Linked DNA regions of Homo sapiens: region 1 is linked to region 2. A link means that fine-mapping ties the variant in region 2 to the expression of a gene that starts in the linked region. Tissue or cell type: whole blood. Region 2 holds a variant in brackets; the other region holds the start of a gene. All regions are shown on one strand. Distances are from middle to middle.

Region 1 (8,106 bases), 49 kb before region 2:
CTCAAAGGGGAGATTGCCCAACCCAAGCCACATCCCCTTGGTAGGATATCAGGGATGGGTCCTGAGGTATAGCACCCCACCCCACCCCCTTTAGCTGGAACCCGTAGTGCCCCATGCCACTTGACTTTCAGGAGGATAGGTAGAGGCCAAGCCAGACAGGATGGCTCCAAATGATTCCAGAGGGATCAAGCCCTATCCTCACCTACCCAAGCCTACCTGCCAGTACTAGGTCTCGGGAGAAGGCTGGGAGCTCCACCCCAGTCCACTCGTCATGGGTTCCCAGACCTGGCCCCATTTCTGAGTTGCACACATGAGGATTTCTTCATTGTTTTATCTCAGGAAGGAACTTGTGGGTTTGACTCCTTATTGAGGCAGAAATGGCAACCCCACCCAACCTCTTCCAGGCCCCAGCCACAGCTGTCTCTCTCTTGGCCCCAGCTTAGGTGTCAGCCTCTCAAATCAACCCCTACCCTCACAGAGCCCCAGAGAAAATAGCCTGGCCTGGAGCCAGAAGTGAGACAGATAAATTACAACGCTACCCCTAGTGCATGTCCCAGGAGCCAACTCCTAACTCAGCAGTAAACAGAAGGGACTCAGCTTCTAAGGAAGCATCTGGAAGGCAACTGGGAGTGGGACTCTCCCTATGGGGAGGCAAGGGGTTGTGTTTGAGGGAAAGTGGCCACCTTTCCCCATATCCAGGCAACCAGAGAATCCCAGTGTTAACTGGTGGAGAACACACCCCTGGGAGTGCTTAGCTTCAGTAGGTGGCAGCGGCCATCACATTCCTGACTTTTAAGGCAACCTGGTCTAGCTAGAAGACCCAGGTTCTACACTCATCTGCTCAGTGCGATGCTGAGGCAGGACCTTGCCCTCCTTCCTTGGGCCTCAGCCTCCTCTGCTGCACACGGATTTGGACCAACTGGAGTTCTCAGAGGTCCCTTCCAACCTTGACCTTCTAGGAAGTCTTTTGGGCACTCCACCCCCAGCTCAGGCAGAGGGAAGAGTACTTTTTGCCTGTACTGAAAAACCCTCATACGTGGGCACACAAACCACCTCCATCTTTTCACAAAAAGGAAGTTCCCCTTCTACCTTCCAGCCCCAACCCCTCCAAAAACATCTTGCTCTCTGGCCCTGGAAACTAGCTCCACCTTCAGACTTGCCAAAAACTACCAGATTCATCACAAAGAGCTGTGGCGCCTCCTGGATTCCCAACTCTGGCCTCCTACTCCCATCTCTGAGCTACTTGGCAGGAAGAGGAATCCTGTTCCTCGACTCACAGCAGTCGGGGGCCCCAGTACCCTGGCTTCCCTGCCAGCCAATCACAGCAGCCTGCTTGCTGCCCTCCTCCCTGGGAGATGGGGCCCAGAGACTCCTCTCAGGGTCAGCAGAAGACTTGGCCCGCCACAGAGCAAGGTGGAGGAAGGTGCCAGCTCACCCACCCTCTCCCCCAGCCTCCCTAGGAGACAATCTGCATGTCCTAAATAACCTCTTCCAGATCCAGCAGCTCCCCCGCCTCCTCCCCAGGCTCCTTCTGAGGCGGGACAGAACCGGTGACTTTCCTGCCCGGCCTGAGCCCAGCCCAAGTTTCCAGCAAGAGGCCCAGGGAGCCACTTCCCAAACCACAGGAGTGACAGCAGCTCCCCACAGGGTTATGAAAGACCTTGGTCAGAGAGGGCGGGCCAGGGGAGGGGGCACCATTATCACATCGGAAGCAGATGCAGCTCACCTCCCTGTCTGTCCCTCAGCTTGGGCCTTGGGCTAAGGGGGGAAGAGGGAGCTGTTTCCACCAGGCCCAAAGCAGCTGCTCCAGTTCCTCAGAATGAGGACGAGGAAGGATTAGGAAGAAGCTGTTTCTTCCGGGATATAAGAGGAAGCAAAGAAGGTGGGATGAAATACATCAGCCCTTCCTTAAAGCAATCAGGGCCTGGCTTTAATTGGCTCTGGGAGGCTTTTCTATCACAAAGTCCACATGAGGATAAAGACTCAACCAAGGCAAAACCCCCTCCCCCACATGAAGCACATTCCACTCCCCTACTCCAGTGGGGGTGTGCAGGCATGCCCTTCTGCTGCCAATAAATAACTCATGGTGGCTGCGTAAACCCAGAGGCAAAGTACTAGTGAGTGTAGACATGCAATTTGACTTGTTGCTATCTGGGGGAAAGACCAGGAAGGAGTGGCATCCCCTGGAGGTCAGGAGGAGGGGGTTTAATGCCTGCCTGCAGCTCAAGCCTGGGCGGGAGTGATACTAACCATCACACCACAATGCCCCATCGTTTGTTCCACCCCAATTCCTTTCCCAAAGGTCCTGATCCCCTTGCTTCCTCTCCAGGGGGCAGAAAGCCTCTGATATCTCAAGCTTTCCTTTTCCTGGAAAGTGGGGAGACAATACGTGTCGGGGGTGGGGGGAGTTACACACGCACCCGCAACTGGCGGGGAGAGACAGCGTGGTCGGTGTAGATGCACAGTTTTTCGATGGTCAGGGGCGTGGTCTCGCGCAGCTTGGAGGCCAGCAGCATGCAGACCGCACCCAGGAGCTGCAACTGCGCCTTTCGGGTGGGGACGCAAGACAGGTAGCGATCCAGGTAGTTCATGGCCAGGGGGAAGACTTCCTCCTCACAGCGCTGCTCCTCACATACCTGGGGGAGGGCGCACAGTCACTGCTGGGTCTGGAGCGTGGGGAACACAGCAGCGGGGGGGTGGGAGCGCTGAAGTGAGGTGGGATAGGGAGCAAAAACGGCAGAGAGGGTAAGCTACTTAGAGAGACAAGGACCAATAAAGGAGGAGGATGCGCCCTCCCCAAGGTGACGCCCCCCACTTCCTCTGCGCGGCCTCCTCCCCTCTCCCCTTGACGGGGGAGTGGTAAAGCCAAGGAGCCCTTGCTCACGGAGGATTCCAAACGGAGACTCCCCTCCCCCACAGCGAGGGGAAGTGGGACGCAAGGGTCACCCATGGTAGCCAGAGAGCTGGGACCTCACCCCCATCACCGCCACCACTGCACACACCCGAGGGGAAGGGAGGAGGCTCCTGCCGCTGCCTCCTGCACTTTTCATTTCCCTGTCGGCCGGAACAGGGCGCGCGCCACCCCCATCGCCTTCCCCGCCAGAACCCCGCGAAAGACACAGGAACCGGCTCCCGGGCGGGGGCGGCCGAGCCCAGGGTTTTCCAGGCGCGCTCTCCGGAGAAGGCCGGGAGGCGGAGGGAAGCGGGAGACGCTGTGAGAAGCCGAAGGGGAGAGAGTGTCCTTGGTCCCGTTTGCTCGGCCCGAAGAGAGGCACAGTTAGGGTGCCAAGTGACTGGCAGTCACTGTCGGGAGGAGCCGATTAGGGCTCGGGAAAGCAAGGGAGGCAGCTGGCGTGGGTGCCCTAGTGAAAGGCCAGGCCCCGGGAGTCTTAGCCTCGGAGCATCCTGCAGATTGCTGTGGGGACCGGGATGTCCCGACAGGGCGGCCCCGGTGTGTCCAGACCCGGGAGCGGTGGGGGAGGGGGACGCGTCCGGGCGGTACCTCCAGCATCCAGTAAGCCAGCATCTTCCGCATGTGCGGCTTGATCTCCCGCTGCACGCACTGGAAGTAGGAGGCGCGGGGTACGTAGCGCTCCTCCAGGCGGAGCAGGCTCTGCAGGACACGCTGGTCCCCCAGCAGCCGCGGGTCCGGCCCGGCCCGGGGCGCGTGCCGGGTGCCTTCGCAACACAGCAGCTCCATACTCGGGCAGCGAACAGGCAGGGCGGGAGTGCGGGCTCGCGAGTCCCAAGGCAGGCGACGGGCCGGAGAGCGCGGGGCGCGGGTCTGGCGCTGGCGCTGGCACTGCGCGGCGGATCCCCAGCCCGCCCGCCGCCCGCGCGCGCGCGCCGCTTCCCTGACAGGCGCCCCGCCCCTCGCGACGATGTAGCAACCGTGGAATGCTCGGACGTCGCAACGCTCCGAGGGGCGGGGCTGCGGCGCCCCGGACGGAAAGGGTTGGCTGAGCGCTCTCCCCTCCCTCCCGCGGCCCCATTGGGCCGCTGAGCGCAAGCCGGCCGGCTTCCGGGCACTCCAGGCCCTCTGGACCACCGGGTGCAGAGAACTTTCTAGGAGGTGGGCCTCCTACCCACCCACGGGCCCTCCCATTTTGCTTCTCGGACTCTAGTCACCCAGGAAACAATTTTTCTCCAAAGGTCATTCATTCACTTATTCATTCGTCAAACCCTACTTCACCGGCTGCTTGCTCTAAGGAATGCGATAAATAATGTCAGAGCTAGTTCTTAGTGAACGCTGCTCGAAAGCCTCACGATGTAATGACTCACTACATCTTCACGAAAACTCGGAAACCGAGGCAACTGTCATTCAGTTGGTCCGTGGCAGAGCTAGGATTGGGAAGCTGGCCTTCTTGCTGCAGATTCTGTGTTCTACACCATTGCTAGTTAAACTGTGATCCCAGACCTGTCCCGTGCGTGGTCATCGCCTGGGAGCTGGTTAGAAATGCAGACTCTCAGGCCCACCCCTAACCTGAATCAGAATCTGCATTTTAACTAGATTTCTGTGCACTTTAAAGTATGAGAGCTTTAGTCTAAGTCAGCATATAACAGAACGGAAAGGCCATGGAGTCATGGCCTCACCTTGTTAAGTTGCTTGCCTAGGTTTGGACAAGCCCCTAAAGTCGGCCTTAGTTTCTGTTTGGAGAAACTGTGGACGGAGAAACTAGATTCTCATTGAATCAGTTTCTTGCACAGACTCTGTGAGATCTACCGGTTGCATTTCTTCCACCTCCCAAACTTTTGGTTACTTTGTAGTTTTACCGGAAGCTAGATTCCACTTGACGAAGAGGCCGAAAAAGACCTCCAATAATGCTCCAAATGGGAGGAGGCCATGAGGATCCCTGCCCTACTGGGGTCCTCCTGACTTAGGAGACACTAAGGAAGTGTCTAACCATTTTCTGTTAATTATTCTTTTTTTTTTTTTTTTTTTTTTTTGAGACGAAGTCTCACTCTGTTGCTCAAGCTGGAGTGCAGTGGTGCGATCTGGGCTCACTGCAACCTCCACCTCCCGGGTTCAAGCAATTCCCGAGTAGCTGGGACTACAGGCACGCACCACCATGCCTGACTAATTTTTGTATTTTTCGTAGAGATGGGGTTTCACTATGTTGGCCAGGCTAGTCTTGAACCCCTGACCTCGTGATCCGCCGGTCTCGGCCTCCAAAAGTGCTGGGATTACAGGCGTGAGCCACCGTTCCCGGCCGAATTATTCTTTCTTATATTATAAATTGTATTGTAGTTTTCATATCATAAAATATTCTTTTACATTGTAGAAAACTTCAAAAATACAAATAAGCCACAAAAAAAGGAAATAATCATTTGCAATTTGCCATGAAATAACCCTTTAATATATCAATGTTTATTTTTCTAATCTTTGTTCTATGAATAAACACACATTTTAAATGGAATCATCACAAACTGTTTTGTAAGCTTTTTTCATTAAAAAAATACTGTTAACACTTTTCCATGCTATTAAATATTCTAGGACATAATTTGTAATAGGGACATAATATACCATTAGGTGAATGTACAAAATGTATTTTGGCAAACCTGTATTGGTGGAAATTTAAATTATTTCTAGTTCTTCTCTATTAGACATAATACTGTAAAATATTTTTGTGGTAATATCTTTGTGCACACTCATGATTATTTCTAGAAGTGAATTAATTTCTAGAAGTGGAATTTCCCAATCTAAGGTTATGAAACATTCTAAGGCTTTTGATACACTTCTAATTGCCAAATTTTCCTGCTGAATAGTTAAACCAATCTTTTCCACCATCATTACATATCTATTTTTCAAAACAACTCTGCCAACTAGAGAGTGAAAGTGGCTTATTAGTAATAATAAATCTATTTTGGCATATTACTAGACATTTACATTTCTTATGTACATTACCCATTCATGTCCTTAGCTTATTCATTTATAGGGATGTTTGTTTTCTCTTATTGACTTATAAGTTCTCATCACCTCTCAAAGATATTAACCCTTTTCATATTTTTTGTTTGGTTTTTTAACTTTGGTTATAAAAATTCTTGACATAAATTAATTTTTAAAATCAGTATTTTTAAAACTTCTCATTTATAGTAACATGGCACTATGTATAAAAATGTCCCATCAGCCCAGCACTTTGGGAGGCTGAGGCAGGAGGATCACTGGAAGCTAGGAGTTGAAGACCAGCCTGGACAACAAAGCAAGACTCCTATCTCTACAAAAAATAAAAAAAAAAAATAAGCTGGGTGCGGTGGCACAAGCCTGTAGTCCCAGCTACTAGGGAGACCGAAGCAGGAGGATCGCTTGAGCCCAGGAGTTCAAGGCTGCAGTGAACCATAACGGCACATGACCTTCCTTAACATTTTGTTATCATACATTTTGCAAAAACAAAATTTTAGTTCATTGTTTTTACTAATTTTTGGTTCACGGTGGATTTTTTTTTTTTTAACAAATAGAAGGGTTTTTTGTGTTTTTCTTTGTTTTTTGGTTTTCTTTGTTTTTTTGACACAAAGTTTTGCTCTTGTCACCAGGCTGGAGTGCAGCTTACTGCAACCTCTGCCTCCTGGTTTCAAGTGATTCTCCTGCCTCAGCTTCCTGAGTAGCTGGGATTACGGGTGCATACCACCATGCCCGGCTAATTTTTGTATTTTCAGTAGATACGGGATTTCACCATGTTGGCCAGGCTGGTCTCGAACTCCTGACCTCAAGTGATCTGCCTGCCTCAGCTTCCTAAAGTGCTGGGATTACAGGCACAAACCACCGCACCTGGCAAATTAGTTGCTGATTTATTAATTGAGGGAGGGCCACATAGACTGACTAGTCCTGAAAGCTGGATGTGAACCTGTAGTATGGGGACGGGAGCTCCTGGTGAGCAGGACTTTAGGAGAGATACTTCTGCCTCACCCCTGGATGGAATAGCCATGCCTAGAGCTAGATCATCCCTGACTTTCAGGGCCAAGGACTGGCCACTGGGGAGGCAGGTGAGCTCAATGCAGGACCAGCACAAGTTCACCAGTTACCTCCACCTCAAAGAAATAGAGGCTCCTCTTGTTTTTCTTGTTTTTGTTTTTGTTTTTCTAAAAGGAAAACTAAAGACAAAGCAATGACCAGGGCCAATAGTATGAGGAGTTTCTACCCAGGTACATCCAGTTAGAAAAAGTCAATAAAATGGCAAATTGGAGGAGGGGTGGGAATGGAATGTCACAGGCCAAATAAGAAACCCCAAGGAGGAAAGATACATTTTCTTTCTCTTCCTCTTCATCATCAAAATACCCCCATCTGGGCCAGGCACGGTGGCTCACGCCTGTAATCCCAGCACTTTGGGATGCCAAGACGGGTGGATCACCTGAAGTCAGGAGTTCGAGACCAGCCTGGCCAACATGGTAAAACCTTGTCTCTACTAAAAATACAAAAAATTAGCCAGGTGTGGTGGTGGATGCCTGTAATCCCAGCTACTCCGGAGGCTGAGCAGGAGAATCACTTGAACCCTGGAGCCAGAGGCTGCAGTGAGCCGAGATCGTGCCATTGCACTCTAGCCAGGGCAACAAGAGCGAAACTCTGTCTCCAAAAAAAAAAGTCCGCATCTGAGAAGTGAGAGGCTGAACAAGGTGATGGGTGAGGCCCATCACCCCACAGTCCACATGCCATGGCTTAGTTACCTTCAGACCCATTGAGATGCTGGGGAGAGCCAAGCGAGCCATGGGGCTGAGAACAGGGGTGCTAAACAGGGTTCTGGAGTCAGAGACTGCTTTCAGTTCAAACCTGGCTCCACAGCTTATGACTTTGAGAGAATTACTGGAACCTCTCTGCTTCCTCTTTTATCCAGTGGGGATAATATAATAGCCCTATAATGATGTTCTGAAAATTAAACAAGCAGAAAATGTCTTACCTGTGCCTGGCACAAAGCAAGCATTCAGAGATAGTAGTTTCTGAAATGATTATTATTATTCCCTTTCTCAAGGAGTACCCTTTCTGTTATGAACATGCATCCATAACCCCTCTAAGAAAAGCAAAAGTTTGAGCAGCAAGAGCCCTACTCCTAGAATTGCATCTCTAGCAAATCCTGAAGACCTGGCTTCTAACGGTAAACGCATGGTCTAGCGTAT
Region 2 (8,106 bases):
GTAAATTCCTAATGTATGCCAGAACATGTCAATATCCTGTAAACCAGCTCTGGATATTAATTAACTCTGGATTAATGGGATGGACTTTCTATTTTTACAGTAGGAAGAAAATGGCAAAAACATATTGTCAATTACATTTCGCACTCATTCCTCTCTTTTGAGCTCCTCACTTTAACTTTAACTCACTGATTGGTTCTGGTGCCTGTAACATTGGCTCCAAAGGCTTGTGGCATTGTCCTAATACTTCAGTGATACCTTGGAAGGACCCCGATATTGCTTCCTATTGAGAGGTAGCAGCACTTCAGAAAAGACTGGGTGCTTATACAAGCTAGCCAATTGGTAAGGCTTATGGAGTACTTCTGCTTAACTTTAGATCTTTGGTATATTAAAAGCTTTGCCTTCTGTAACCACAACTCCCATGGACCAGGCTTTTCTCTCTCTCTCTCTCTCTCTCTCTCTCTCTCTCTCTCTCTGTGTGTGTGTGTGTGTGTGTGTGTGTGTGTGTGTGTGTTTTAGAGACAGAGTCTTGTTCTGTCGTTCAGGCTACCAGTGGCTCAAGTGATCCTCCAGCCTCAGTCTCCCAAGTAGCTGGGACTACAGGTGTGTACCACCATACTCAGCTAATTTTTTTTTTTTAATAGAGAGGGGGTCTTGCTATGTTGCCCAGACTGGTCTCGAACTCTTGGGCTCAAGTGATCTTCCTGCCTTGGCCTCCCAAAGTGCTGGGATTACAGGTGTGAGCCAGCATGACAGGCCACGGAATTTTTTTCTGAATGGTGAATTATATACACCTGGAATCTGCTTTGTGCTGAGGAGAAAATGCATCTTTTACACTTAGTGATCTCTTTTCTTTGCTTCCTTTTTGAGCTTAGCTTTGTTCTCTTCTCTCTTTTTTATCTCTGCAAACTCCTCTAGTGCCTCCCTAAATTGCATCACTGGTTCCCCAAACCATTCTCAGGTACTCCTTCAGATAAAAATAATTAAAACAGACCAGGCACGGTGGCTTATGCCTGTAATCCCAGCACTTTGAGAGGCCAAGGCAGGCGGATCACCTGAGGTCAGGAGTTCGAGACCAACCTGACCAACATGGAGAAACCCTGTCTCTACTAAAATAGCCAGGCATGGTGGCGCATGCCTGTAATCCCAGCTACTCGGGAGGCTGAGGCAGGATAATTGCTTGAACCCGGGAGGCAGAGGTTGTGATGAGCTGAGATCGTGCCATTGCACTCCAGCCTGGGTGGGCAACAAGAGTGAAACTCTGTCTCAAAACATAATAATAATAAAAATTAAAACAGTATTTCTCATTCTTACAGCCGCTCACCATCTTCTCTCAATCCTGATAGCCACTGCTGCCTAAATAACTACCCCATTTTTGAATAGTTATTACAATTCTTTTAAGTGCCTAATGTATGCCTGAACATGTCAATATCCTGTAAACCAGCTCTGAATTTTAACTGCTGGATCATTTTCCTTTTTTTCTAAATGTATTCACAATACTGTTCCTAAAGGAGTACGGATTTCCTACAACTGATGGCCAGCCTTGCAGCTGGGCTAACATGGCCATGGCCTCTTGGCCTCATGGGGGATGGCTTTTTAGATATAATGCCAAAGGCATGATTTATGAAAAAATAATTGATAAGCTGAACTTCTTTTCTTTTTTTTTTTTTTTTTGAGACGGAGTCTGGCTCTGTCGCCCAGGCTGGAGTGCAGTGGCGCGATGTCGGCTCACTGCAAGCTCCGCCTCCCGGGTTCACGCCATTCTCCTGCCTGAGGCTCCCGAATAGCTGGGACTACAGGCGCCTGCCACCGCGCCCAGCTAATTTTTTTGTATTTTTAGCAGAGACGGGGTTTCACTGTGTTAGCCAGGATGGTCTCGATCTCCTGACCTCATGATCCGCCCGCCTCGGCCTCCCAAAGTGCTGGGATTACAGGCGTGAGCCACCTCGCCCGGCCGATAAGCTGAACTTCATTAAAATTTAAAACCTCCGCTCCACAAAAGGCAATGTCAAAAGAATGAGAAGACAAGCCACAGACTAGGGGGAAATAATTGCAAAGAACACATTTGATAAAGGATTGTTATTCGCAATATGCAAAAAAAACTCTTAAAATCTCAACAATAAGAAAACAAACAACCTGGGCACTGTGGCTCATGCCTGTAATCCCAAGACTTTGGGAGGCTAAGGCGGGTGGATCACCTGAGGTAAGGAGTTCGAGATCGGCCTGGCCAACATGGTGAAACCCCATCTCTACTAAAAATACAAAAATTAGCTGGGTGTGGTCTTTGGTATATTAAAAGCTACTCGGGAGACTGAGGCAGGAGAATCGCTTGAACCTGGGAGATGGAGGTTGCAGTGAGCAAGATTGTGCCATTGTACTCTAGCCTGGGCGACAAGAGTGAAACACTGTCTCAAAAAAAAAAAACAAAAAAAAAAAACAGAAAAGAAAACAACAATCTGATTACAAAGTGGGCAGAAGAACCAAGCTGATATCTCACCAAACATCTACAGATAGCAAATAAGCATATGTAAAGGTGTTCTAAATCATATGTCATTAGAAAATTGCAAATTAAAACAATAATGATGTACCACTATGCACCTATTAGAATGACTGAGATACCAAACATTGGCATATCAAGTGCTGGTGAGAATGTGAAGCAACAAAAACTCTCATTCATTGCTGGTGGGAATGCAAAATGGTATATTCACTTTGGAAGACAATTTAACAGTTTCTTATATGACTAAAAGTACTATTCTATAACCCGGCAGTTATACTCCTTGGTATCTGCCCAAATGAACTGAAAACTTACGTGCACACAAAAACCTGCACACAGATGTTGATAGTGGCTTTATTCATAATTGTCAAAACTCTGAGGCCCAAGCTGTCCTTCAGTAGGTGAATGGATACCAAAGCCAGAGCAATTAGGCAAGAGAAAAAAAATAAAGGACTTATAAATTGGAAAAGAAGGAAGTCAAATTGTTCCAGTTTGCAGATGACATAATCCTATACATAGAAAAAGCTAAAGACTACCAAAAAACTGATAAACAAATTCAGTAAAGTTGCAGGATACAAAATCAACATACAAAAATCAGTAGTGTTTCTATACATGAACAATGAACTAATTGAAAAAGAAATCAAGAATGCAATTCCATTATAATAGCTCTAAAAAAAAAACCTACAAATAAATTTTACCAAGGAGGTGAAAGACTTCTACAAGGAAAACTACAAAACACTGATGAAAGAAATTGAAGTTGAAGATGATACAAATGGAAAGACGGCCCATGTTCATGGATTGGAAGAATTAATATTGTTAAAATGATCGTATTACCAAAAGCAATCTACAGATTCACTGTACTATCTATCAACATGTCAGTATATTCTTCATAGAAATAGAAAAAAAAATCCTAAAATTCATAAGAAACCACAAAAGACCCCAAATAGGCAAAGCAATCCTGAGCAAAAAGAACAAAGCTGAAGGCATTACACTACCAGTCTTCAAAATATACCACAAAGCTGTAGTAACTAAAATAGCATGGTAGTGACATAAAAATAGACACATAAACCAATAGGAAATAATAGAAAACCCAGAAATTAGTCCATGAATCTATAACCAACTGATTTTTTTTTTTTTTTTTTTTTTTTTTTTTTTGTGATGGAGTCTTGCTCTGTCACCCAGGCTGGAGTGCAGTGGCAAAGTGGCAAAATCTCAGCTCCCTGCACCTCTGCCTCCGGAGTTCAAGTGATTATCCTGCCTCAGCCTCCAGGGTAGCTGGGACTACAGGCGCCTGACACCATGTCCGGCTAATTTTTGTATTTTTAGTAGAGTCGGAGTTTCACCATGTTGGCCAGACTGGTTTTGAACCCCTGACCTAAGGTGATCCGCCCACCTCAGCCGCCCAAAGTGCTGGGATTACAGGTGTGCGCCACTGCCCCGGCTTAGCCAACTGATTTTTGACAAAGGTGCCAAGAACACTCACTGGGGAAAGGATAGTCTCTTCAAGAAATGGTGCTGGGAAAACTTTTTTTTTTTTTTAAGGCGGAATTTCCCTCTTGTTGCCCAGACTGGAGTGCAATGGCGTGATCTCAGCTCACTGCAACCTCTGCCTCCTGGGTTCAAGCGATTCTTCTGCCTCAGCCTCCCAAGTAGCTGGGGCTACAGGCATGTGGCACCACACCCGGCTAATTTTTGTATTTTTAGTAGAGACAAGGTTTCACCATGTTGGCCAGGCTGGTCTCAAACTCCTGACCTCAGGTGATCCACCCGCCTTGGTCTCCCAAAGTGCTGGGATTATAGGCGTAAGCCACCATGCCCAGCCCCGCTCAGGTACATAGCTCAGCTGATAGCTCATTTCTTTTTACCACAAAATAATACTCCATTGTCTGGATGCACCAGTTTGTTTCTTTTTAATTTAGTATAATTGTATTTTTTAATTGATACATAATAATTGTACATATTTATGGGGTACATAGTGATGTTTCAATACATATAGTGTACAGTGATCAGAGTAATTAGCATATCCATCATCTCAAACATTTGTCATTTTGTTTGTTTTGGGAGCATTCAGTATCCTCCACCTAGCTGTTTGAAACTATTATTATTATTCTTAACTGTAGTCATTCCAACAGTGGCATAGAACACTGGAACTTATTCCTCCTATGTAGCTGTAATTTTGTAACCTTTAACAAATCTCTCCCTATGCTTCCTTTCCCCTCCCCTTTCCATCCTCTAGTATTTTCTGTTCTACTTTTTCCTTCTATGACATCAGCTTTTTAAAGCTTCCACGTGTGAGTGAGAACATGCGGTGTTTAACTTTCTATTCCTGGTTTATCTGACTTCACATAATGTCCTCAGTTTCATCCACGGTGACATAAATGACAGGATTTCATTCTTTTTTATGGCTGAAAAGAATTCCATTGTGTACGTGCCACATTTTCTTCATCCATTCATCAGCTGTTGGACACCAAGGTTGATTCGATATCTTGATTGTTGTCAATAGCGCTGCAATAAATAC[G/A]GAGGTGTGGATGTCTCGTCAATATACTGATTTCCTTTCCTTTGGATAAATGCCCAGTAGTGGGATTGCTGGATCATATGGTAGTTTGATTTGTAGTTTTTTTGTTTTATTTATTTTTTAATTTTTGAGAAGAAGTCTCACTCTGTCGCCCAGGCTGGAGTGCAGTGGCATGATCTCAGCTCATTGCAACCTCCACCTCCTGGGTTCAAGAGATTCTCATGCCTCAGCCTCCCAAGTAGCTGGGATTACAGGTGCCTGCCACCATGCCCGGCTAATTTTTGCATTTTTAGTAAAGACGTGGTTTTACCATGTTGGGCAGGCTGGTCTCAAACCCCTGACCTCAAGTAATCCTCCTGCCTCAGCCCCCAAAGTGCTGGGATTACAGGCATGAGCCACCACACCCAGCCGGTTTTTTTTTTTTTTTTTAGATGGAGTCTTGCTCTGTGCCAGGCTGGAGTGCAGTGGCTCACTGCAACCTCCACCTCCCGGGTTCAGACAATTCTCCTGCCTCAGCCTCCTAAGTAGCTGGGATAACAGGCATGCGCCACCACGCCCAGCTAATTTTTGTATTTTTAGTACAGACGGGGTTTCACCATGTTGGCCAGGCTGGTCTCGAACTCCTGACCTTGTGATACACTGGTCTCGGCCTCCCAAAGTGCTGGGATTACAGGTGTGAGCCACAACACCCAGCAATATTTTATCTATCTTGGGACAGGGTCTCGCTCTGTCACCTAGGCTAGAGTATGGTTCCACTATCATGGCTCACTGCAATCTCGTCCTCCCTCAAGCAATCCTCCTGTCTCAGCCTCCCAAAGTGCTGAGGTTACAAGCATGAGCCTCTGTGCCTGGCCTTGTTTTTATTTTTGTTTTTAAAGATGGAGTCTCACTCTTTCATCCAGGCTGGAGTGCAGTTGTACAATCATAGCTCTCTGTAGCCTTGAACTCCTGGGCTCAGGCAATCCTCACACCTAAGCCCCTAAGTAACAAGACTATAGGCACACTATATCATGCCTGGCTTAAAAATGTTTTGTAGAGACAGGGTCTTGATGTGTTGCTTAAAATGGTCTTGAACTCCTGGCTCCAAGTGATCTCCCCACCTTGGCCTCCCAAAGCTCTGGGATTACAGGTGGAAACCACCATACCTGGTCTGATTTACAGTTTTTTGAGGAAACTCCATAATGTTTGCTATAGTGGCTGCAATAGTTTATATTCCCACCAACCGTCTATGAGATCCCTTTTCTCCTCATCCTCACAGCATAGATGATACCTCATTGTGGTTTTACTTGGATTTCCCTGATGATTAGTGATGTTGAACATTTTCCCATATATCAATATATTTGTTAAGCTCATGTCTTCTTTTTTTTTTTTTTTTTTTGAGATGGAGTCTTGCTCTGTTGCCCAGGCTGGAGTGCAGTGGTACCATCTCAACTCACTGCAGCCTCTGCCTCCTGGGTTCAAGCAGTTCTCCTGCCTCAGCCTCTGGAGTAACTGGATTACAGGCATGCGCCACCATCCCCAGCTAATTTCTGTATTTTCAATACAGATGGGGTTTCACGATTTGGCCAGGCTGGTCTTGAACTTCTGACCTCAGATGATCCGCCCACCTCGGCCTCCAAAAAAAAAGCTGGCTGGGTGCAGTGGTTCACTATCACGAGGTCAGGAGTTTGAGACCAGCCTGGCCAACATACTGAAACCTGTCTCTACTAAAAATACAAAAAATTAGCTGGGCATGGTGGTGGGTACCCATAATCCCAGCTACTTGGGAGGCTGAGGCAGGAGAATAGCTTGAACCCGGGAGGTGGAGGTTGTAGTCAACCAAGATCACACCACTGCACTCCAGCCTGGGTGACAGAGCGACAGACTCTTGTCTTAAAAAAAAAAAAAAAAAAAAAAAAAAAAAAAAAAAAAGAGCTATCAAGCCATGAAAAGACATAGAGAAAACTTAAGTGGATATTACTTAGTGAAGAATGCCAATCTGAAAAAGCTTCATACTAGATGACTCCAAATACAGTCATATGCCACACAGTTTTCGGTCAACAATGGACTGCATATATGACGGTGGTCCCATGAGGTTATAATATCTTATTGTTACTCTACCTTTTCCACCTCTAGATAGACAAACTACTTGCCATTGTGTTACAGTTGCCTACAGAATTCAGTACAGTAACCTGCTATACAGGTTTGTAGCTTAGGAGCAATAGGCTATCCCATATAGTCTAGGGGTGTAGGAGGCTATTCCATCTAGGTTTGTGTAAGTACACTCGATGATGTTCACACAATGACAACATCACCTGACAACTCGTTTATCAGAACATACCCCCCTCATTAAGTGATGCATGATTGTAGATGACATTCTGGAAAAGGCCAAACTATGGAGGGAGCAAAAAGACCAGTGGTTCCCAGGAATTAGGGGAAAGCATGAGACAAACAAACAGAGCACAGAGGATTTTTAGGGTAGTGAAAGTATTCTGTATATTACTACAATGGTGGATACATGTCATATGTTTGTCAAAAACCAAAGAATGGACACCAAAAGTGAACCCTAAGGTAAATGCTGGTCTTTCAGTGATAATATATCAACGTAGGTTCATCACCTGTAACAAATACATCACTAGGGTGCAGGGTGTCAATAGTGAGGGAAGCTGTGCATGTATGGCGTAGGAATTATATGGGAACTCTGTACTTTTGCAGCTCAATTTTGCTGTGAACCAAATCTACTCTAAAAAAATAAAATATAGGCCGGGCGCGGTGGCTTATGCTTGTAATCTCAGCACTTTGGGAGTCCGAGGTGGGCAGATCACGAGGTCAGGAGTTCCAGACCAGGCTGGCCAACATGGTGAAACCCCGTCTCTACTACAAATACAAAAATTAGCCAGGCGTGGTGGCAGCCGCCTGTAATTCCAGCTACTCGGGAGGCTGAGGCAGGAGAATCACTTGAACCCAGGAGGCGGAGGTTGCAGTCAGCCGAGATCGTGCCATTGCATTCCAGCCTGGGCGACAGAGTGAGACTCCGTCTCAAAAATAGATAAACAAAAATAAATAAATAAATAAAGTATATTAGTTAAAATTTTTATTTATGCATAAGAACATACAAATG

Evidence for each region. PIP is the estimated chance that this variant, and not a neighbour inherited with it, causes the effect.
Region 1: CCND3 starts here. The variant in region 2 is fine-mapped to the expression of CCND3 in whole blood (INTERVAL, PIP above 0.99).

What each region holds. Positions count from the first base shown.
Region 1 is chr6:41,937,950-41,946,055 of GRCh38, forward strand. CCND3 (cyclin D3) reads right to left here and starts at 3,859. Exons shown (of 5, transcript NM_001760.5): 1 at 3,503-3,859; 2 at 2,421-2,636. The coding sequence starts at 3,700. RefSeq lists enhancers at 330-1,145, 1,146-1,961, 1,542-1,836, 2,918-3,047, 3,090-4,041 and a silencer at 3,558-4,007.
Region 2 is chr6:41,987,046-41,995,151 of GRCh38, forward strand. It overlaps a transcript of CCND3 not described here. Among named protein-coding and RNA genes, the nearest start is that of CCND3, 49 kb to the left of the region's middle. The variant G/A (reference allele first, on the strand shown) is at 5,010.